Regions from separate parts of the Homo sapiens genome. Here all the other regions are linked to region 4. Evidence: fine-mapped expression QTL. A gene starts in region 4. Each other region holds a variant in brackets. All regions are shown on one strand. Distances are from middle to middle.

Region 1 (4,684 bases), 40 kb before region 4:
TAGAGATGAGGTTTCACCGTGTTAGCAGGATGGTCTCGATCTCCTGACCTCGTGATCCGCCTGCCTTGGCCTCCCAAAGTGCTGGGATTACAGGCGTGAGCCACCATGCCCGCCAATATTATTTTTAATGTATAACAGAATAATGTCAGGGTTTTGTTTTTTTTTTTTAATCCAGGATCCTACCACCCTAACAAACAAATCCAACTTCAATTTTTTTTCTCCTTCCTATTTCTTGCCCTAAGCACTTACAACGTTTAGCTTTAATCACAACGTAGTACAAATTTTGCATTTCTGCTTTTTTCCCCACTTGCCATTTTTATCAGGAGTATTTGTCCCTGTTGCCATATGGTTTTTATAACTGTTTTAAGAGGGCTGCTAAGTAAATTATACCACATGAACATTAAATTTACTTAACTACCTTGTTAAAGGATAATTTTTTTAGAAGTTAAAATTATGACTCATACAAATATAAAAGTAACATGTTAAAGATGATTGTATTTAACTTGTTAATTATTGAGAGAACCAGTAGGACACTTTAATTGGCTCAAAGGAGAATCCAAAGAACAAATAATTATAAGCCTAGCAGGAATGCTGAAATGAGTTTGCTTCGTAGTTACAAAACTGGCAAAATTGGCTGATACCTGCAGAACAATAATCAGTTATATTCCATTGGTCACAATTTGCATTTCTATGAACAAGAATCATCTGCATTATCAGTTTCCCTTAATTTACGTAATTGTAAAGTAGCTCAAAGGCAGTGAAATGAAAGGGAATCAACTCAGAAAGGTGGGCTAGATTAGACAGAACACTCAGTAATTGGAGGCAGGGGTGGGGGCAGTGGGCAAGACCTATTTCAAAGTCCTTCACAGTGTTTCCTGATAGCCTGTATTTGGATAGCTGGGTTATGTCCAGTTATTTGCTTTTATTAAATGTCAATACATCTTTGAACATTTTTTTCTTTCCTAAATACCTAGGTTCTATAAGATATAATACTGTTAATAGTAGGGGATCCCTAGGGTCAAAGGAGATTTTGACTTTTGATTAGTGTTGCCAAGTTGACCAGAGTTGTATAAGCCTTTTCCCATGCCAAAAACAAAAACACCATCCATGTCCAATGGCTATCACTTCCATAGTGTCCTAAAAAAAATCTTTAAAAACCTTCCTTTCTCCAGTGGTCCTCTGCTATGTCGTGAATGTGTCTCCCAAAGTTCCATGTGTTGGAAACTTGATCCCCAGTGCAGTGGGTGTGGGGAGGTAGGACCTAATGGGAAATGGTTGGGTCATGGGGGCTCTGCTCTCATGAGTGGATTAATGCTGTTATTATGGGAGTGGGTTCCTCATAAAAAAATGAGTTCAGCCACCTATTGGCCTCCAGCCCTCTCTCTCTTTCTGCCCTTCCACCCTCCACCATGGGGTGGACAGCAAGAAGCTCCTCACCAGATGCCAACACCTTGATTTTGGGACTCCCCAGCCTCCAGAACTCCATGAGATAAATTTCTCTTCATTATAATTTACCCCATGTATTGGTATTTTTATTATAGCAGCAAAAAGTAGACTAAGACACCTTTCCACCTTCTCATTTCTTCTCATATTCATTGGCCAGAATTAAATCTGTGGAGAATTTGACCTGGATCAATCAAGACCCATCACCCCAGGGCTGGAGAAGGGCTCAGACTCCCCTAAAGCTCTGAGCCCTAGAGCCCCTGAACAGATTCCGTTAATAAACAAGAAGCAGGGGGACCAGTGGACCCAGCTAGAAGCGGTTTATGTGGCTACTTACTGTATTTTCTTTTTTTAAATTTCCTTTTTTGTTTTACTTTTGAAATGCATGATGGTTATACTACAGTCCTAGGATTCAGGAAAACTTCTAATTCCACATCTAACCTTTGCTAAGGGTTAGATGCCAAACTACCTTTTGTTTGAGTTTTTCCATCCATTAAATGAACTTGGGATGAGAGTGGGAATGTGGGTGGTCAGAGTGACCAGATGAACTTTAAGATACCTTGCATCTCTAAAATTTTAATTATTTGAAAGTTAATGATCCATGTGAAAAACTTAACTTAGCTGTGGCAACCACATAACACCACCACCACCACCCCACCCTACCCTCTGTTTGAAATGCTTGTTCTTCAGTGCCGCAAAGAAATAGCACTTGAACATTAATTTCTTCAGCAAGGTCATTTTTATACTTTCTGCAGAAAGGGTACACTCGCCAGCAGTTTTGCCACGAGAGAACACCGAACAAAGGAGACAGGGTCATTTATAACTTGACAAGTCCACTTTACTGC[T/C]GTGTCCAGTTTCCATTGGCTGGAACGGGACCTCACATTCTGTATTTGTCCTGATTGGCTAGCAACTTAGAACTTTTTAAAAGAGGCAAAGGCAGAGGAGAATGAAGGAGGAAGTAACTTGTGGAATGCTGAGAAACGTAAAAACACCTTCAGATAAGGAAGAGGAACAGGCTATGACCTAATGCTTGCTTGGACCAGTATAAGCATTGCCAGGGCAAATAGGCTAAATTGTGGGAGCTAAGAACATAAAGTACATTGATTTCTTTATTACGGCTAGCAGATATTTAAGAATGTTAGCACAGGTCTTTGAATAAGTTTTGCTCCTAAGAGAAGTTACTATTTATTCTTAATTAGACAGGGAGGAAAGTCTTTGAAGAGGAACCTCACTTTACTTTTTACACCCCTAAGAACCATGATGATAGACTGCAAAAAAGCATCCCATCAACCATCACTTTTTCCAGGAAATGGCTGGCCACAGAAAACTCTCCGCCCCTTTCCTCTTTTGAAATGGTCCCAGACTGCTCACCTGCCTCCTTGAAGCTAATCAAGTCAAATGTACTTGAAGACCACTTTGTCTCTTGGCTTGCTTCCACAAATCCTACCCTTATATGACATTTGCCAAGTCAACACTGTCAGTATTTCTCCTTTTTACTCTATAACGTCTTAACACCTCTGAACACTTACCAAAACAAAGGTTTCAGCAGAAGGGTTCCCCTGCTGCACGTTTATGAATAAATAGCCTTTGTCGATTTTATCTTGGACTTAGTTTTGTCTCTGACACATGTGGAATGGATGTCTGTTAGAATTCTGCCCTTGCCACACCTCTTGCTTCCTGGATAAATGTGGGTTCACTTGGGTTGATGACCTTGGGCTACACTGGCTTCTTCAGAACCCCTGAGAAGCGTGTAGGGATTCTCATTCAGACCTCTAGAATTGAGTGAATCAGTGAAGGGCAGCTGACACCAAAAATGCATTAAAATGTCAAGGCCGGCAGCCCTCTAGCTTCTGGCTGGAGTGTGTGATGATTTCGTCTGAATTCCCTGAGTTCAAGGCATGCAGTGGGCACATCGACTATGGGCCCATCAGAGGCTGAGTTTGCAGCAGCAGCTGTCCTGTACAGCATGCAGCAAAACGGCTGTCAGCTCTTATTAGGAAGGTAGAAACATGCCAGTGGGTATGTATGCAGGACTAGTGTATCCTTGGATGTGCCTGTTACTGACCACTGTGGTTCTGTTTAACATTAATTTGTATATTTCTCAAAGCATCACATGCCCAAGATTTAGGCAAGTAAATTCAGTTAACCACAGAGTATACTTTTATGCCTTTCCTGTGATAACACCATTCTAGATGCTAAGAGTGAATGTAGGATAGGACAGAAAAGTGCTGCTGGCAAGGACCTTACATTCATGCCAGTGAAGGAGACCCAAAACAGATGGGCAAATAATGCCAGCCGTCTGGAAGCAATGGAGTGAAGTGGCCAAGTGAAGTCCTGGAGGAAAATTGTTCTAGGCTAAGTCCCTGAAGGGTGGTGAGTTTGGGGTGCTGGGGAAACAGCAGTATGACCTTTAGAGACAGAGCAAAGGTGTGAGGGACAGAGTTAGGCAGGGGCCAGGTGAGGCAGGCTATTACAATGTAAGTCTAGTGAGCAGTGGATTCCAGCAGGAGAATTATGTCTATTTGTTTTGGGGAGAGTGTTTTGAGACAAGGTCTGATCTGTCACCCAGGTTGGAGTGCAGTGGTGTAATCACAGCTCACGGCAACCTCAACCTCCCAGGCTCAAGCGATCCTCCCACCTTAGCCTCCCGAGTAGCACATGCCACTGTGTCGAGCCGTTTGTTTTTTTAAAATCCTCTGGAAACTGGGAAATTGACTGAAAGGTAGTATTCCTCCAAGCCCTTGAATCTAGGCTGGCCTTGTGACTACTTTGATCATTACAAGGCAGTGGGAAAGGATGTTCTGGGACTTCAAGCCCAGGCCTCAATAGGACTGCCAGCTTCTACTTCCTTCTCAGAACACTAGCTCTGAGCCCAAGCTACATGGAGAGGCCATCGTCCTAGCTGAGAACCTAGCCAGCTGCCACCATGTGAATGAACCACGGTGAACACTCAGCCCATTCAAGCCCACAAATGCCCACAGCTCCAGCCACATCACATGAATAGAGGAACCACCCCACTCAGCCCAGGAAAACCAGAGTTGTGAGACTGAATCACTTGGTTTTGAAGTTTATTTCACAGCAATAGATAAGTGAAACAAGGGCAAGAGTGGTGGATGGATGCAGGACACAAGCCAGCTTTGGGGTTCATTTAGGCCAGAAAGGATGGAGGCCTGGAGCAGACTGGCGGAAGTGAAGATAGTGAATCGTCAGATTCAGGACGCACTTGATGGGTGCAGCTTTC
Region 2 (4,684 bases), 52 kb before region 4:
GAACATACACATCTCCATGCTGGCTCAGCAGCAGCAGCAGCAGCAGATTCAGGCTGTGTCCTGCCTAGTGCTCCTAGCCTGGTACCAGTCAGATAGATAGTTGAAGTATCTCACCTCAGGCAAAGCAACATTGATACATTGATGCATGTAGTGTCTGGAGGTTGCTTGGCATTGCATTTGATCAGGAATAAAAAGGAAGTTTAGGGAGTCTGTCTCAGTACCCTGTGGCTTTCACTGCAATCAAAATACGATCTTGCACAGGTCAGAGCCGTGTTCAAGTTTGGCAAGAAATAAGGCTAATTTTTTATAGGTATACCGTACTTTCCAAATTGTGGGTTATGAACCATTAATGCATCATGAAATAAATGTAGTGGGTCACAATCAGCATTCTTTTTAAAAATGAGAAGTATATGCCATGTAGTAACTTACATGTAAATTTTGTTTATACACAGACAAAATGTGGGTGTGTACTGGGTCCTGACATGAGACACTGTTCCCATTGTCGCGGATCAGGGATAGTTCTTTGTGGTTTTAGTTGTTGAGTTCTGTTTCTTTGTTATTCCTTTCGTGGCAGCACTACATTGTAGCGTGCTCACTAAGTGTCAGAGGTTTACCTCACGCCAGTTGTGTTCATTTGGCTGCAGGTAACTGAAGACCCAACCTAAGGCAAAGCAGACTTCTTTATTTTTGTAAGACTTCATTAAGAGCAGTTTCAGATTCTCAGCAAAATTGAGAGGCATGTACAGAGATTTCCCATATATCCCCTGGTCCCACACATGCATAGCCTCCTGTTATCAACACCCCCCACTAGAATGGTACGTGTGTTGCAATTGACGAACCTGCATTGACACATCATGATCACCCAAAGTCCATAGTTTACATTAGGGTTCACTCTTGGTGGTGTACATTCTGTGCATTTGGACAAGTGTATAATGGCATGTATCCATTATATATAGTATCATACAGAACATTTTCACTGCCCTAAAAATTCTCTGTGCTCCATCTGTTCTTCCCTCCCTCTACCCCTGACTCCTGGCAATCACTGATCTGTTGACTGTCATCCTAGATTTACCTTCAAAGCACACTTTTAATCACCTCAGAACATGAGTCTTGAGGGAAGTGGTTTGGGGCTGATTCAGAGCACTGGAATGACCACCTTGTGGTACGCCTGGCCTTCTGATAGTCACAGGGTGACTGCCATGCTCCAGACATCTTATCCTCACACAGCATTCAACAGGGAGGGCAGGAACTTTCTTCCCGAGTCTTTGTTTTTCTTTTTACTAATGAGGTGGGACTTTCCTGGAAGATCCCAGTAGACTTCACAGCAGGTAAAGTAGTGCCCAAACTGACCCGTATAGGGGAAGGGCTTGGATTGATTCGAGTTCATCTGCTGGGCCAGGCTGTTGTTGCTGTCGTTGCTCCTGGGAAGTTGTTGTTTAATTAGGAAGGTGAGGGTGCCACACAGCCTTGCTTCCAGGTGGCCCCTCTGGGCATGTTTTTCTTAAAATAACAGACCAGAGAGAAGCTCTTTCTGGTTTTCAGTCTCCTTTGTGGCTCACAGGCCCTGCCACTCCGTGGTTCTGACCTTGGGTGGGTTACTGAGCCTTGGAGTCGGTTTCCTTATTTCTGTTACAAGCAGTCTCACGAGGGTGGATGGAAAGGCTCCCTGCCTGGCCAGGGAATGGAGAATCATAGCTGTTCATTGCCTGCTCTCACCCTTACCTCTGAGGTTGGTTGGGTTGGGTTCCATGTAAGAAGTGCAGCTTGAAGTGGGCTAAAGGCAGTGTGTTTATTGGGTATTGTGGAGCCTGGAGACCTGTTTTTCTCCCAGGTACTCATTTATAGAGAACTGTTCAAGTCCTGCCATTAGTCATTTCTTTCATCAGGTGGTGACTGCATTCTGGTAAACGAATGAGCTAAATGCATACCCCAGCTCACCAGTTCTGGGGCACCAGTTCCTTGGAGCAGGTACCGGTCCCCACCCTCCTGTCTACCTCTTAGTCCTCAGCTCCCAGCTCCAGGCTTCAGGCAGCATTGGTACCCATTCTGCCCCAGGACATCCGTCTCTACTCCTGCTCTATTAAGATACCACCACCCAACCCCCACCCGTTTCTTACTTTGTTAAAGTCCACATAGTCCAGTAGCTGTGATAACACTGCCAATTCATCTCTGCCTCCCCATCCTACTTACAAATGTTGACACTGTTTTTTAGGTTGGGATTTTTGTCAGGATTTTCTTTTTTTCCTAAACTCTTACACAACAGAACTGTAATGTTTTTATGGATCTTCTGAGTAATGAATGCTTAGAACCATGGTGAGTGCCCACCCTCAGTCTTCCAGTAAAATCAGTTTTGTGTCCATTATATGTTAACCACTGGCTGACCCTCCAATCTGGGATCCTAATTAGAGAATTCTCAGGAACTCAGTGTCAGCTATCACAATAGGCTGGCAGTGGCTTCCTGAGAAAGCAATGCCGATGGTGTTTTTGAAAAGGAAGTTGCAGATATCTATTGCAGATGTCTGTTCCTCTTTTCTCATAGCGTCTCTGGAGTTCCCCTTTTATTGGAAGGCGCCGTCGTGGCTTGTCCAGCTTCTG[G/A]GAAACTGGAATAATAGAAAGAGCATGGTATTTGGGTTTATAATTTATAACGTAGTTTTACTATTTTACTAAATTATAAATTTACTATTTTTATAATAGTAAATTTTACTATTTACTATTTTCACTTCTCCCTGTCTGCCTCAGTTTCTTCATCTGTGAAATGGGGATAGTGCTGTGGAGAAAGAATTGCATTCGTTCATGTGTGGAAAGCACCTAGCCCATTTAGAGTAACTCAGAGTGGAACCACTGGCCACAGAGTTGCTAGCAGTTGGCTGGGTTTACTGAGTTAATTCTTGAAGGGCCACCACTGCAACCTCCTTAGTATTCCTGTTCTCTTCAGTCATCTCTGTTACAAAGTATTAGCTGTGCAAAAATGAGCATGGGTTGTTTTGTGGGGCAGCATTGGATAAAATAAGTGGGATGAATGCTGCACAAATTCTTTCTTTCATTTCTCTATTTCAGCCTAGGTTGGTTTTTACTTTCCCAGGAAAATTATGACAACTCAGGAACCAGCCTACAAGGGGCCAGCTTTACGCCCCAGGTTCCCTGTTGGTGTGAGACACTTGGCACTAGAATGAGGGTGAAAGCTTGCCTTATAGCTTCCTCTTACCACATCCCATAGTGCTGACCCACAGCCTGGAGAGCAGCAATGTGTGTAGGTCACAATTAGTGAACCACAGAGGAGCCCATGGGGGTGGCAGATGGTGGAGGGGGATTTGCCTGCACTGAACAATGGAGGAGCAATATATACACACATTATATGTGAAAGATGATGGGGGATTTTGGGAAGGAATATTGCTTCTTGCACTGTGTGTGACTTCTAGACATAGTGTGCACCTCGAGGGACCACAGTTATTTTTAGCTGGGGAGAAAATCCACGGGGTGCTGGGAGAGTCAGGGCAGGAGGAAGTTTATACTCCCCATCTCCAGAAGAAGGTGGACTGCCGCTCATCTCTGGTACGCGGGGTCCTTTTGTAGTCGAGTTATTGCTTGGAGTCAGGGAAGAGCATTCACAGGTCTGGAGTAGGACTGTCGCAACTCCTTAGATGTCCAGTGAGGTCACAGGAAACCCTCCCTAGATACTGCAGTTCCTGCCAGACTCTTCAGCACTGGCATCTCTGATGAGTGCTCTGCTGCTGGTTTCTGACTTGTCTTGTGTCATTACTCTGCTGCTCATGTTACAGTCGTCTTTTTCACAGGGATGCTTGAAGATGGAAAGAAATTTGATTCCTCCCGGGACAGAAACAAGCCCTTTAAGTTTATGCTAGGCAAGCAGGAGGTGATCCGAGGCTGGGAAGAAGGGGTTGCCCAGGTATGCTCTCTCATTTGTTTTGTTTTGCTTTCTAGTATTTACCTTTTATATTTTTTTATAGGTGGCATATTTATACGGTTCAAAAATAAAAAAAGTGAAAAGTCTCACCCTCATGCCATCCCATCTGACCAATACCCCCACAAGAAGCTCCTGTTGTTAATGTTTCTTGTACTGTGGTTTAAGCACATATAAAAACATAACTTTTTTCTTGCTTTCACACACATACTGTTTTGCAGTTTACTTTTTCACTTAATGCATTTTTGACACTTGCAATACCACTACATAAAAGAGGAGTAGGCTGGGCGCGGTGGCTCATGCCTGTAATTCCAGCACTTTGGGAGGCCAAGATGGGTGGATCACCTGAGGTCAGGAGTTCCTGTAATCCCAGCACTTTGGGAGGCCAAGATGGATGGATCACCTGAGGTCCGGAGTTCGAGACCAGCCTGGCCAACATGGCGAAACCCCATCTCCATTAAAAATACAAAAATTAGCCGGGCGTGGTGGCAGGTGCCTGTAATCCCAGCTACTTGGGAGGCCGAGGCAGGAGAATCACTTGAACCCAGCAGGCGGAGGTTGTAGTGAGCCAAGATTGTGCCATTGCGCTCCAGCCTGGATGACGAGAGCGAAACTCCATTTCAAAAAAGAAAGAAAAAATGAGGAGTAAGCTCTGTTACAGCTGCCTAGTATTCGTTTATGTAAGTGTGCTATAATTTACTTGGCTAGTGCCCTATTAATGAGTATTTGAGTCATTTCCAGTATTTTGCTATTATAAACAAT
Region 3 (4,684 bases), 30 kb before region 4:
AAATGGAAGATTTATTTTATTTTAAATCATTTTTAAAAAAATAGAGACAGGGTCTCACTACATTGCCCAGGCTGCTCTCAAACTCTTGTGCTCAAGCAGTCTGCCTGCCTCAGCCTCCCAAAGCGCTGGGATTACAGGTGTGAGCCACTGTGCCCAGCCTATTTTATTTTTTATTTATTAACTTATTTCTTTTGAGACAGGGTTTGTCTCTGTCACCCAGGCTGGAGCGCTGTGGCGTGATCTCAGCTCACCTGCAAGCTCCACCTCTTGGGCTCAAGCGATCCTTCCACCTCAGCATCGTGAATAGCTGGGACTACAGGCACATGCCTTCATGCGCAGCTAATTTTTTGTATTTTTTATAGAGATGGAGTTTCGCCATGTTGCCCAGGCTGGTCTGAAACTCACGGACTAAAGTGATCTGCCCGCCTCAGCCTCCCAAAGTGCTGGGATTACAGGCATGAGCCACCACACCCAGCCCCAGATGGAAGTTTTAGAACTTAAAAATATATATATATACACAATAACAGAAACAAACTCATTGGATGGACACAATGGCAGAGTGGAGATGACAGAGGAAAGAAACATTGAACTTGAAGACAAACCAATAAAAGTTACACAGTCTGAACAGAGGAAAAAAAAGACAATAGATTTTTTAAAAATGAATAGGACTTTAAGGACCTATGGGAAAATACTCCAAGATCTAAATACTCTTTAGAGCTATTGAAGTTCCATAAGGACAAGAGAAAGAGTGCAGTGCTGAAAATATACTTAAAGAAATCATAGCTGAAAACTCCCCAAATTTGGTGGAAGGTGTAAATCTTCAGATTTAAGAAAATGAGCAAACCCCAAGCCAAGAGGACTCAACAACCCTAAAATAGTATGCACTGAACAACAAAGTTATAAAATAATGTGAAAACTGACAGAATTGAAAGAAGAAATAGATAAATCCACAATTACAGCGTGGACTTCAACATCCTTCTATCACTAACTGATAGAACCATTAGACAAAAAAAAAAAAATCATCAAAGATTAGAAGAAATTAACAACATGAGCAACAACATTTAAGTGACATTTCTAGAACATTCCATCCAACAGCAGCAGAATACACATTTTTTTTTCAAGTGCACATGGAACATTTACCAAGATAGACCATATCCTGGGACATAAAACAAACTTTAACAAATTTAAAATAATTGAAGTTATGTGAAGTATGTTTTCTGATCAGTTGTGATGGAATTAAACTGTATGCCTCTCACTCATTCTTAAAATGCAAGGCTGGTTTTATACTGAATTAATAATTAGTAACCTTCCAAAAAAAGAAAGTACAAGACCCAGATGGTTTCACTGGTTTCACTGGTGAAACCAAATGTTTAAGGAATAAATAGTATCAATTCTCTGCAATTTCTTCCAGAAAACGGAAGCAGAGGGAATACTTCTTAACTCATCCTATGAGGCCAGCACTACCCTAATACCGAAACGAGATTAAGATATTATAATAAAGGAAAATTAAAAACCAATCTCTCAGGAACACAGATGTACAACTCCTCAATAAAATACTAGCAAATCAGGAGGAGGTGGAGCAAGATGGCTGAAAAGAAGCCTCCAGCAATTGTCTACCCTGCAAGAACACCAAATTGCACAATGATCCACACAAAAAAGCACCTTCATAGGAGCCAAAAATCAGACAAGTGATTACAGTACTTGATATTAAAATCATATTAAAGAAAGAGGCACTGAGTGTGGTATGGAGAGAGAATATGTGCACTTCTGGAAGAGAGCACAGTGATTGTGGGACACTGCAATGGAACTCAGTGCCGCCCTCTCACAGTGGAAAGCAACGGGGCAGAACTTCGCGAGTGCCCATGTCCTAGCCAGGGGCAAATCATCCATCCCAGCAGTCAGAACGTGAGTTCTGGCAAACCCCGCCAAAGTGGGCTAAAGTGCTCTGGGGTCCTAAATAAATTTGGAAGGCCGTCTGGACCAGAAGGACTGCAATTCCTGGGCAAGTCCTGGTGCTATGCTGTGTTCGGAGCCAGTGTACTTGGGAGGCATGTGACCTAGTGAGACACCAGCTGGGGTGATCAAGGGAGTGCTTGTGTCATCTCTCCCCCAACTCCAGGCAGCACAGCTTACAGCTCCAGGAAAGACTCTTTCCCTCTGCTTGAGGAGAGGAGGAGAAGAGTAAACAG[G/A]GCTTTTTTTTTGGCAAATTGGATACTAGCTCAGCCACAGTAGAATAGGACACTAAGCAGAGGTCTGAGGCACTCGTTCCAGGCTCTAGCTTCTGGATGACATTTCTAAACTTACCAGAAAGGAACCTACTGCCAGAACAGAAGGACCCAGTTCTGGCAAAATTCATCACCTGCTGACTAAAGGGCCCTTTGGCCTTGAATAATCAGCAGTGTTAGCCAAGTAGTACTGGCCGCAGGCCTTGGGTGAGACTCAGAGCCACACTGGCTTCATGTGTGACCCAGTACATTCCCAGCTACGGTGGCCTCAGGGAGAGACCCCTTCTGCCTAAGGAAAGGAGAGGGAAGAGTAAAGGGGACTTTGTCTTGCAGCTTGGGTACCAGCTTGGCCACAGTTGGGTAGAGTACCGAGTACCAAGTGGGACTCTGGGGCCCCGATTCCAGGTCTTGGCTCCTGGATGGCATTTCTGGACCTGTACTGGGCCAGAGGTAAGCCCACTGCCCTGAAAGGAGAGAATCAGGACTACAAGCATTCACCATAAGCTGACTGAAGAGCCCTTGGGTCTTGAATGAACATAGGTGGTAGCCAGGCAGTACTCACCACGGGCCTAGGACAGTGGTGGCCATGGGGAGACTCCTCTGCCTGAGGAAAGGGGAGGGAATAGTGGAAAGGACTTTGTCTTGTGGCTTGGATGCAAGCTCAGCCGCAGTAGAATAGAGCATCAGGTAGACTCCTAAGGTTCCCAACTACAGGCCCTGCCTTCTGGACGACATCTATGGACCCACCTGGGGCCAATCTCAGACAGAGATTGATGAATATTTGGATAGATAATTCAAAATAGCCATTTTGAAGAAACTCAACAAAATCATGTTGATAACAGAGAAGAAATTCAGAATCCTATCAGATAAATTTAACAAAGAAGTTGAAATAATTAAACAGAACCAAGCAGAAACTCTGGAGCTGAAAAATGCAACTGACATACTGAAGAATGCATCAGAGTCTCCTAACAGCAGAATTTGTCAAGCAGAAGAAAGAATTAATGAGCTTGAAGACAGTGTATTTTAAAATACAGTCAGGAGACAAAAGAAAAAAGAATAAGAAAGAATGAAGCATGCTTACAAGATCTAGAAAATAGCCTCCAAAGGGCAAATCTAAGAGTTACTGGCCATAAAGAGGCAGTAGAGAGAGGGACTAGGGTAGAAAGTTTATTCAAAAGGATAATAACAGAGAACTTCTCAAACCTAGAGATATATCAATATTCAAATACAAGAAGGTTATATAGAACACCAAGCAGATTTAACCCAAATAAGACTACCTCAAGACATTTAATAATCAGACTCCCAAAAGTCAAAGATAAAAAAGGATCCTAAAAGCAGCCAAAGAAACAAATAACATACAAAGGAGCTCCAATACATCTGGTAACAGACTTCTTAGTGGAAACCTTACAGGCCAGGAGAGAAACTAGCATGACATACTTAAAGGGCTAAAGAAAAACTAACCTTTTTATACTGGAATTTATCCAGTGAAAATATCCTTCAAACATGAAGGAAAAATAACGACTTTCCCAGACAAACAAAACCTGAGGGATTTTATCAACACCAGATCTGTCCTACAAGAAATGCTAAAGGAATTTCTTCAATTAAAAAAACAAAAAGGATGTTATTGAGCAATAAGAAATCATCTGGGGGCTCACACCTTTAATCCCAGCCCTTTGGGAAGCCAAGGTTGGGGGATTGCTTGTGTCCAGGAGTTCAAGACCAGCCTGGGTAACATAATGAAACCCCATCTCTACAAAAAGTAAAAATTAGCTGGGCATGGTGGTATGTGCCTGAAGTCCCAACTATTTGAAAGTCTGGGATGAGAGGATTGCTTGAGCCTGGGAGGTTGAGGCTGCAGTGAGCCACACTCCATTGCAGTCCAGCGAGGGTGACAGTGAGTCCCTGTCTCAAAAAAAAAAAAAAAATCATCTGAAAGTATAAAATTCACAGATAATCATAAGTACACAGAAAGACACAGAATATAACACTGTAACTGTAGTGTGTAAACTACTGATCTCTTGAGTAGAAAGACTAAATGATGACCCTGTCAAAAATAATAACTACAACTTTTCAAGACATAGTATAATAAGATATAAATAGAAACAACAAAAAGTCAAAAGCAAGGGGATGAAGTTAAAGTGTAGAGTTTTTATTCATCTCTTTGCTTGTTAGTTTGCTTATGCAATCATTGTTAAGTTGTCATCAGTTTAAAATAATGGGTTACAAGATATTATTTGCAAGCCTTATGGTGGCCTCAAATAAAAAAACATACAATGGATACACAAAAGTAATAGCAAGAAATTAAAACATACCACCTGAGAAGTCACCTTCATTAAAAGGAAGATGGAAAGGAAGGAAAGAAGGAAAAGAAGACTACAAAACAACCAGAAAACAAATAACAAAATGGCAAGAGTAAGTGCTTATCAATAATAACATTGAAGACAAATGGACTAAACTCT
Region 4 (4,684 bases):
CTCTAACCCACGCTTCCCTCCCGCGCACTGTCTTGTAAAGGACGGATGAGCTGTCCACAGGAACGAGTGGGAGTTCCATCACTTCAGCTCTTTGGAACAAAGTGTTCCAAAGAGTGTTCTCACTCTAAGTTCAAAGATGGGGGCTGAAGTCCCCTTGTCAGCCCTGCTGATCTCCGAAGCCCAGCTATTGGTTTGTTGTGGGTGTTGTTATTGCTTATATCAAAAAGTACAGAAGCTCAGGGATGGAAATCTGGAAAGGGCTGTGGGAGAGGAAAATTCCTCTGAGAGAGAGGGGTTAGGTGGGTTCTTTTCCTTTCGGAGGAACCAATTACTTGTGGGAAGCCATCAGCACAGAACTGAGCAAACTTCCACTGTCAGATTATAGGAGCCAGGCAGCCTTTCAACCTAACTCGTTAGGGCCATGGTTTCTCTCCTTTTCCAGGCCCAGGTTATTCTTCGAAAGACTTTCTACTTATTGACTGCAAACACAGACAGGCATGGGAAGAAAGACTGTATATTTAGGATATCAGGCTTTCTCTTCTCTCTGTGCCTGCTTTTCCACTCCTTTCAGAAATAGTAATGGGATGCCTGTTGTGTGCCAGGCACTGTGCTCAGCACTGGGGGTTAACAAATGAGTGACATTTCCTGACCAGTGAGGGAGATGAGCAAACAAACACAGCACAGTGGAAATCCAACCTAGGAAATGCAGAAGGCCTTGCTCATAGTAGGTGATTAACAAACACTTGTGGAATATATGATGAAGAGGCAAATACAAGAAATGCTGTCGTCTAGAGAAGGGAGGCTTGCCAATCTCCATGCGTACAGGTGGGGGAAAGCTTTAAATTGGAGGAAAAAGAGTTCACAACAAGGAAAAGAGAGAAGGCATGAATGACTCTTAAGACAGAGGGAATAGCACCTGCAAAAGCATGGAGGCATGAACTAGCAGGCTGACTTTTAGGACTCAACCTAAAGTAGTCTGGAATAAATGAACTTCATGATAAGTGTGGAGAAGAATGAGATGGTGAGAATGGAAACATTACCAGAAGTCAGGTCACAGAGATTTGAGGGCAAGAAGTAGGTATGGCTTCAGAAGGGAAAGGGAGGAGCTGAGGATAACTCCCAGATTTCTGACATAGCCCATGGGTGGATTCAGTGAGACCGCTGGGGAGGCGCGGCACAGCTGGGGAAAATCACGAGTCCAGTTTGGATAATCTGCGAGGTAAACGGGATCCAGAAGGCAACTGGACTCTCAGGCCTGGGCCTCCCTGTCCCTGGAATAGCACACTCTCTTCCCACTTGAACATCCATCCTACACGGCCCAGTCAGGGTCTTCTTCCTTCCTCCAGGAGACCTTCCTGATTGCCCTAGCCTTCCTCCTATACGCCACATCCAACTGCCTGAGTCCCTCATAACAGGCTTTCGGTCTGATTTTGCTGTGGGAATTGATTTGCCCGGCCAAGCCAAGAACCCTTCCCTAGGCAGCAGAAGCCCAGTCACTCAGTCACTGGTGGGTGGGACGCGGGGTGAATCTGCGTAGGGTGGGGCGGGGCATTTTTAGCTCAACACTGGGTCAGAAGTCACGGCCAGACAAGAAACGGGTGAGAAACGGGGGAGGAAGGGTGACGTCACAATTGGTAGGAAATACCTTGGGACTTGACGCTTTCGAAACCAAAGGGAGAGCAAAAGCAGCCGGGAGCGCGCGGGCCGACCTGGTTCTCCTCCCTTCCCACGGCTGCCTTAGTACAGAATCTTATAAGTCCTCCTCCTTCAGAGGCTACAAATGGTGTTCCGAGGCCAGGGGAGTTTAAAGCTCGATTTCACCCGCGCAGCCTCCAATCCGGTAAAGAGGGGCCGCGGAGCCCGACCAAGTCTTCCTATGCCTTACTCTGCTGCTTTACCTGATCTATTTTTGTGGATGCCGGCGCCAGCTACGGGCGCCCGGAGAAAGCACGAGGCCGGGTGGACTCTGGTAACGCAAGCGGCAAGGAGGCCGCCATGTTCCACTCTGCAGCCGCTAGGGATCGTGGGAGTCACCCCTAACCGCGCCCGGGCCTGGGTGGGCGAAACGCATGCGCTCTAGAAGTTGCTGAGTCGCTTGGCGGTGTTTCTGCGCAGGCGCCGTAGCCCATAGCAACCGCCGTAACCTGTAGCAACCGGAAGATGTCGCTTCCGGCTGGTTTGGGGCTAAGAAAGGGGTTATAGTCATTTCGAGATCATAGAACGATGTGACAGATAGGAAACTGAGGCTGGGTTGGAGGCAGGCCCTAGGGACCGTTGCGTTGGACCTCGCTCCTGTGGCGCGGTGGATGGAGTTTGTGGCTTGTGGCTCCTATTTCCCAAAGCAGGAAATTGAGACAGAGGGAAGGCACAGGTTCGTCCTGAGGCTGCAGCCCAGGTGATGGTTCCCCGGGTAAAAAATCAATATGATGCCCTTTGTTTATAAGGAGAAGGCAGGGACATGAAAGTAATTTCTAATAAAAGAATATGCATTTCACTTTGTAAAAGCTGAGGCTGGCTTACACCCGATCACGCTTGTACCCAACTTAGGAATCAGCTTAGGTTTACTAGAAGACAATATTCAGCTGAATTTTGCCAACAGTTTATATCTGACATCTTGAGTCAAAGGCTAAATATATTTATATAAAAGCGCGGAGTCACTGTGACAGCTACACATGTACACAGACGTGAGCATGCTGTTCGGGTGACTCACCCGTGGGGAGCAGGGTGGGCAGCGATTTTCCAGAATGGTGAGCAAAGTGTAACTCCCCACAACCAACCTGATATATGCATTTCCAGACAGTCTAGTGTGTACTAAAACTAGGGAAAAATTCATTGTGATTGTATGTACAACCAATTATAACGGATTTTTGGCTTACTTGAAAGTTTGGCAGGATATCTGAAAGTTGTGCGGGACAGGACCATTTGTTATGGTGACTGTAATGGACTGTCCCATCCATTACAGGAGTTTCATATCCCTGCCCCCCCCACCCCCGACAGGGATATGACTGTCCCCTCAGTCTCGTGACACCCAAAAATGCCCACATAAATTTCCAATCTGTTCCTTGGAAAACCACTGATTTATTCAGTCAAATAATTTTTGCTAGCATATGTGTGCTGGGCAGTGCCGTGGCGGGGAAGGATCGTGTGTGAACGGGACAGAGCTCCTGCCCTTATGAGTGAGGTCCAGTGTAAGAAAATACCCAGATATTAATCACATAATTTGATAAATAGCTTGGCAACAGGGGCAGTACAGGTCAGGGGTGGAATACATGGGAAGACCCAGCCAGGCAGCCTGGGTATCATGCAGTCTGGAAAAGCCAAGCAGAGAAGTAGCATCTGAACTGAGCCTCGAAGGAGCATCACACCAAGGAGGATGATGTGCACAGCAGAGGGACCAGCACGTCTGGCACACAGTGGACACTCAAATGTTTTGAATGATTGAACGAAACACAGCATGTTCGCTGGCAGGGAACCATTCCCCATTATATTGTGAGCTGCTACAAGGCAGGGGATACAGTATGCCTTTCCTATCCCCAGGTTTCACATCCATGGATCCAACCAACTGTAGACAGAAAATATTTAAAAATAAAAATTAAAAAAAACAACAAAAATTCAAATAAAAATAAAATATAACTTTGTTTAGCATTTACATTGCATTAGGTATTGTAAGTAATCTAGAGATGATTTAAAGTATACAGAAGAATGTGCATAAGTTATATGCAAATATTATGCCACTTTATGTAAGGGACATAAGCAGCTGTGGATGTTGGTATCCGAGGGATGGGGAGTGAGGGGCATTGTCCTGGAACCTACCCCAAGGAACGACTGTACCTGTTTTCTCACTTCCCCGCATCCCAGCACTAAGATGGGATCCAGAGAAGGTGGCAGTGGTGAAAGGATCTCAGACACAGAAAAAGGGTTATGTGATCTGGCCCGGGAGTGATTTCCAGGAAATGGATCTCTGACTCCCTGCTCTCCCAGGGGACAGCTGACAAAAATATAAGTGCTCTACTGGTTAAATGTTAGGAAAATCAGGGCAGGAGTGGCTGCTTATTTTCGCATCTGCTGTTCATGCGTGGTCCTGGTGGCAGGTCATGTTTTGGCAGATGATAGCTGCTCAGGACTGTCCCAAGATTAAAAATCTCATAGTGTGTGTACACAGTGGGGAAGGCTATAAGCAAAGGGGTCTCTTCCCCCAGGTGGTCTAAAGGAAGTCAGAGCCAGACTCCCTCCCCTCCCAGGAAATTCCTGTCCTGTTGGGATGGTCATTTCTACCCCAAAGGCCAGGCTAGGGCAGGGTCTGGAACTGGCTGCCTCCAGGAACCAAGCAGGCAACGTAAATCAGTGAAGGGCTGATGGGTACTTGCGGAAACAGGAAAGCACGTACAGCCCCATTTGCGAGGTAGGCTGTGACTCAGCCGGGTGAGTGTTGCCATGCACTATTCCAGCTCTTGCCTTGCCAAATGTTTATATTTTTTTCAATCCAAGTAAGAAGTGACGCATTTTGTGTTTCCAGATTTTTAAATATTGGCACTAATTCAGATTTTAAAAACAAAAGGCTGGGCATAGTGGCTCAGGCCTGTAATCCCAACACTTTGGGGGACCGAAGCGGGCAAATTGCTTGAGCCCAGGAGTTCAAGACCAGCCTGGGCAACATGCTGAAACCCTGTCTCTACAAAAAATA
Region 5 (4,684 bases), 69 kb before region 4:
TGAACAGAACTTCAGGCACCTGTGAGACAATTCCAAAATATCTAATGTTCGTGTTACCAGGATCTGAGAAGAACAGGAGAAACAGAATGGAGCAGAAGAAAATATCTGAAGAAATAATGGCTGAAAACTTCCCAAATGTGGTGAAAGGCATACACCTATAGACTCAGGAAGCTGAGTAAACCACAAACAGGATAAACCAAAGGAAATCCAACCCCCATTTTTCAGGTTTTAGAACTTCAGGGAGGGAGTCACTTCCCCTTGTCATGAGGGATGCTTATGACTTCAGACTGAAATGATTCCCTGTCTCCTGTTACACAAAGAGAGTGAAAATAAATTTAATCAGTTCAGAATGATATTAAATGAAAGTCAGAATCTCCTGCTCTTTCTCCCAGTTCCATCTCTTAGAGTCACTCACTCTTTCTGTTTTTTGTTCTGGTTTGCTAAGGGTGATCCCAAAGAACTTAACTACTTAACAGAGTTGTTAATAACTAGGCTATATATAAACAGAATCTAAATTAATTTAGAAAGGAACTCTCCCAGTTACTTCAAAAAATCAGATAAATGCTTAATAAGTGCCCCTTGTCCCCAGGTCCAATTCATCTTAGGTCTGGTGGCAGAACTGATAGCTACATGCTTTCCTGTGTTTTCCCAAAGCACTGAGGAAGAAGTGGTGCAAATGTGAGGTTCTTGGGGAACCCCCATCTATATAAACAAAGCTTATATCCATGGATTGAGATGGCCACTGTCTCAAAGGCAGGTCTATGTTTTGAACCGATACCCAATTCAGAGCCATGAGAGAGACCACAGGATGAATGTGAGGCAAGCCTTATTCTGCTAGGCTTCAGGGAAAACGGAATCCAGGAACTCTCTCGCCCCTGGTTGCTCTCATTCTCCATCATTTATTCTCGCTGCAGTCTGATTTTCTCTAGGTGGTGTGAAGCAGTGTCCTGGCGACTGCTGGGGCCCTCTTTTTAATTTCATCTTTCGATCTCCATTCTTCCATTCTATGAGCACAGAACCTCTGATTTTAGTTGGGTGTGTGTACACCCAGAATGAAGACTTTATTCCCTAGCCTCCCATGCAGCTAAATTTGACCATATAACTAAGTTATAGTCAATGTGAAGTATAACGGGAAGAGATGTGTGCAATTCTAAGTCGTACCCTTAAAGGAAAAGGGAATGTACCCCCCATTCCTCCTTTCCCCCTTCCCACTAGCTGAGATGAAAATATGTTGGAGAGCCAACTTGGACCATGCATATGAGGGTAGGATTCTAAGGATGGGGAGCCACAAGTAGAAGAAGGATGAGTCCCTGGGCAGCCTGTGAAGTCCTACCTGCACTGAACCACCTGCCTCTGAACTGTTACATGAGAGAGACAGCAACTTCAGCCTCTTTTCAGCCACAGTTAATTTGGTTCTGTTACAGCCTGTATTCTTACTACATTAAAATTTCCAAAGCAGTCACGAGCTCACTGAGATTTTAGGAAAGGGGACATAGATGAGGGTTGGGGTGTCAAAAAACTGTGAGGTCATGTTTAAAACACTACAGGAGCTGGTATGGTTTAGTTCTGTGTCCCCACCCAAATCTTATCTTGAATTGTAATCCCTATAATCCTGAGGTCAAGGGAGGGACCCGGTGGGAGGTGATTGGATGGTGGGGGTGGTTTCCCCCATGCTGTTCTCATGGTAGTGAGTGCATTCTCATGAGAAATGATGGTTTTATAGGTGTTTGACAGTTCCTCTTCACATACTCTCTCTCATGCCTGCTGCTGTGTAAGATATGCCTGCTTCCCCTTCTGCCATGATTGTAAGTTTCCTGAGGATTCCCAGCCATGCAGAACTGTGAGTCAATTAAACCTCTTTCCTCCATAAATTACCCAGTCTCAGGAATTTTTTTTTTTTTTTTTTTTTTTTGAGACTGGTTCTCACTCTGTCACCCAGGCTGGAATGCAGAGGTGCAATCTTGGCTCACTACAACCTCCGCCTCCTGGTTTAAGCAATTCTTATGCCTCAGCCTCTCAAGTGGCTGGGATTACAAGCCTGTGCCACCATGCCTGGCTAATTTTTTTGTATTTTTAGTAGAAACTGGGTTTCACCATGTTGGCCAGGCTGGTCTTGAACGCCTGGCCTCAAGTGATCTGCCCGCCTC[A/C]GCTTCCCAAAGTGCTGGGATTACAGGCATGAGCCACCGTGCCCAGCCTCAGGTATTCTTTATAGCAGTGTGAGAATCGACTAATGCAGAAGCACACACACACACAGATCAGAGAAAGATTAGTCACATGTGCCTCCTTATGTCCTAGACCATGTCACAGTGTTCTCTTGCGTTACAGTGCCTCTGCAGGTACTGCTCCTTCTGCCTCCCCTTACCCCAACACATACACACAATTGGCCTTCTAACCTTGGCTAAACCTGGCTAAACCTGGCTAACTCAGGGAAATATCTGACCACATTCCAGACTAAGTGAGGCATCTCTGTTATATTAACACGCCCCTCACAGCATGTATTACTGTCTCATAATATTACAGATTTGAAACTTTACATTTATTCCGTATCTTTTTTTACTTAAACAGGTTATTTGATTATCTCTCCCACATCATACGTAGATTCTGTGAGGTCAGGGACTAAGTCTGACTCCTTCACCGCTGTATCCTCAGCACCTAGCACAGTACATGACATACAGAAGGTGCTTGTCAAAGTCAAAATAAAATATGGAGATGAATCTCTAAATGTAATGTTTTATTTGGGGAAGCGAGAATCGCAACTCGGAGCATACACACAGATCTGGTGGTCTTTGGTATGTCCGAAAAACAAAGAGAAGGCTGGGCGTTTTATTAGAAAGGGAAATGCATTGGCACTAGTAAAGTTTCAGGGAGCTGGCAAGCTCTGATTGGTGACTGACAGTGGTAAGTAAAACTAGTATTAGGTTATGGCGGGTTGTTTCAGCAGTTACTAGCTGAATCTGGTCTCAGGGGGACAGCAGGCCATTTCCGCAGCAGTTAGTGGAAATATTGGTTCTTGGAGCAGGCGCTGCGTGCCTCCAGTGCTTTTCCCCTGGCCCCTGGATTCTGATTCCGTTGGGCATAAGAAGAGTGACCCAATTCGTATTATCAACTTTCACATGCTCAATAAGAATGTATGCATGTAAGCTATGGGTGAGTGAATGAATTTGGACAACTCCTCCTCCAGTGAAGAAAAGCAGAACTTACAACCTTGAGCCACTTATAAAATACTAACATACTACCACCACCTGTGCGCTGTCTTCTCAGAACCATGCTCTTCCCAGGATGAGTAACTGTGTGCTTCTAAGTGGAAACCTGATGACAGTCACCCAGTCAGTGACTGGCGGACCCCCTATTATTACTCCCATTCTTTGGGCAGGGAGATGCTTAACCGGCTGGAAGCACAGAGGAAGGGCAGGAGAACGAAGCAAGTCACCCGGCAAACACAGCTGTATCCGGAGGCCTCCGGGCTTCCGGAGGTCTCGGGGCTTCTGGGCTTCCGGTCCCTCTTCCGGAGGCCTGGGTTTCCGGGACGTCGCGCGCCGTGTGGGGCGCGCACGCAGGGCTGGGCGTGAGGGGGCGTGCGCGTGCGCAGGCGACGCGCCGAGGTACTAGGCAGAGCCGTGGAACCGCCGCCAGGTCGCTGTTGGTCCACGCCGCCCGTCGCGCCGCCCGCCCGCTCAGCGTCCGCCGCCGCCATGGGAGTGCAGGTGGAAACCATCTCCCCAGGAGACGGTGAGTAGTGGCGCGCGGCGGCTCGGAGTACCTCTGCCGCCGCGCGCATCGGCTCAGCATGCCCGTCTCTGTCTCCTCAGGGCGCACCTTCCCCAAGCGCGGCCAGACCTGCGTGGTGCACTACACCGGTGAGTCGGGGGCCCAGCGGGGAGGGGGCCCGGGCCGCAGTCCGCAGCCCGGGTGCGGCTGGCCGTCGAGGCCTGGGGGCCCGGGGCCTGGGGTCCGGGGCGTGGCGGCGGCGAGGTCCGCATGGCCCGAGGCTGAGGCCTGGGCGGTGGCTCAGGGGCAGCCTGGGGCTTGCGGAACCCGGGCGGGTCTGAATCGGCGGCTGTGAGCGTCGGCTGCGGGCTAGGTGTTATCTGACCCGTCAGAAGCATTTCTGCACCTTAGATGCTGCCCTTATGCCCGCTGCACAGATGAGGAAACTGAGGCTTGGCGAGGCGAAGTCACTTTCCCAAGGTCTCACTTTCCCAAGGTCACACTTTCAGGAATGGGCAGAGCTCTGGCCAGGGACCATTAGGAAGGATTTGTACCATTTCTGTGCCCCTGCCCCCACTTCCATCCCTCCCTTCACTGGAGATGAGGACGAGGTAATTCCGAGTCTGCAGAGCTGCTGCTTCCTCCGGGGAACTCGGAATTCGCCCCTTTGCCTAGGGTGGGGAAACATCCCACTTCCTAAGTCATTGCTTTGGCCCTTCCTGGCCTTGGGGGAAGTAGAGCTGCACGGCCTTCTTCCGTCTTTTTACTTTTGAGCCACTTACAAATCCAAGGCTCAGTGACAGCGCTGGCTCAGGCTGACCGAAAGCTGCACGTGTAATTTAGTCCCCCAGCTCTTCTAGAAGTAGAGACTTTTCTCGTCCTCATTTTAAAGATAAGCATCTGGAGGCTAATACATAGTGATAATACAAGCCAAAGGAAATTTTAGACACCTCCCCCTCCCCAGCCAGAATTCAGA

The links.
Region 1: its variant is fine-mapped to the expression of SDCBP2-AS1 in whole blood (TOPMed, PIP above 0.99).
Region 2: its variant is fine-mapped to the expression of SDCBP2-AS1 in lung (TOPMed, PIP above 0.99). The same link has a PIP of 0.9 or more in whole blood.
Region 3: its variant is fine-mapped to the expression of SDCBP2-AS1 in whole blood (TOPMed, PIP above 0.99).
Region 5: its variant is fine-mapped to the expression of SDCBP2-AS1 in whole blood (INTERVAL, PIP 0.99).

Annotation. Positions count from the first base shown.
Region 1 is chr20:1,362,400-1,367,083 of GRCh38, reverse strand. All of the region lies in intron 2 of FKBP1A-SDCBP2 (FKBP1A-SDCBP2 readthrough (NMD candidate)), which reads left to right. The region is part of intron 1 of SDCBP2-AS1 (SDCBP2 antisense RNA 1); the gene reads right to left. Among named protein-coding and RNA genes, the nearest start is that of MIR6869, 28 kb to the left of the region's middle. The variant T/C (reference allele first, on the strand shown) is at 2,289.
Region 2 is chr20:1,374,714-1,379,397 of GRCh38, reverse strand. It overlaps FKBP1A (FKBP prolyl isomerase 1A), which reads left to right. Exons shown (of 5, transcript NM_000801.5): 3 at 3,795-3,907. The region is part of intron 2 of FKBP1A-SDCBP2 (FKBP1A-SDCBP2 readthrough (NMD candidate)); the gene reads left to right. It overlaps SDCBP2-AS1 (SDCBP2 antisense RNA 1), which reads right to left. Exons shown (of 3, transcript NR_040049.1): 3 at 663-2,600. Among named protein-coding and RNA genes, the nearest start is that of MIR6869, 16 kb to the left of the region's middle. RefSeq lists an enhancer at 810-2,009. The variant G/A (reference allele first, on the strand shown) is at 2,596.
Region 3 is chr20:1,352,650-1,357,333 of GRCh38, reverse strand. The region is part of intron 2 of FKBP1A-SDCBP2 (FKBP1A-SDCBP2 readthrough (NMD candidate)); the gene reads left to right. All of the region lies in intron 1 of SDCBP2-AS1 (SDCBP2 antisense RNA 1), which reads right to left. Among named protein-coding and RNA genes, the nearest start is that of SDCBP2, 26 kb to the right of the region's middle. The variant G/A (reference allele first, on the strand shown) is at 2,190.
Region 4 is chr20:1,322,744-1,327,427 of GRCh38, reverse strand. It overlaps SDCBP2-AS1 (SDCBP2 antisense RNA 1), which reads right to left and starts at 2,085. Exons shown (of 3, transcript NR_040049.1): 1 at 1,899-2,085. The region is part of intron 1 of SDCBP2 (syndecan binding protein 2); the gene reads left to right. All of the region lies in intron 2 of FKBP1A-SDCBP2 (FKBP1A-SDCBP2 readthrough (NMD candidate)), which reads left to right. LOC124904856 (a long non-coding RNA gene) reads right to left here. Exons shown (of 2, transcript XR_007067487.1): 2 at 3,059-3,562. RefSeq lists enhancers at 1,509-1,803, 1,794-2,023.
Region 5 is chr20:1,392,007-1,396,690 of GRCh38, reverse strand. It overlaps FKBP1A (FKBP prolyl isomerase 1A), which reads left to right and starts at 3,637. Exons shown (of 5, transcript NM_000801.5): 1 at 3,637-3,729; 2 at 3,810-3,857. The coding sequence starts at 3,693. FKBP1A-SDCBP2 (FKBP1A-SDCBP2 readthrough (NMD candidate)) reads left to right here and starts at 3,519. Exons shown (of 10, transcript NR_037661.1): 1 at 3,519-3,729; 2 at 3,810-3,857. MIR6869 (microRNA 6869) reads left to right here and starts at 3,730; the gene lies at 3,730-3,791. RefSeq lists silencers at 3,581-3,630, 3,831-3,930, 3,941-4,010 and an enhancer at 3,745-4,245. The variant A/C (reference allele first, on the strand shown) is at 2,148.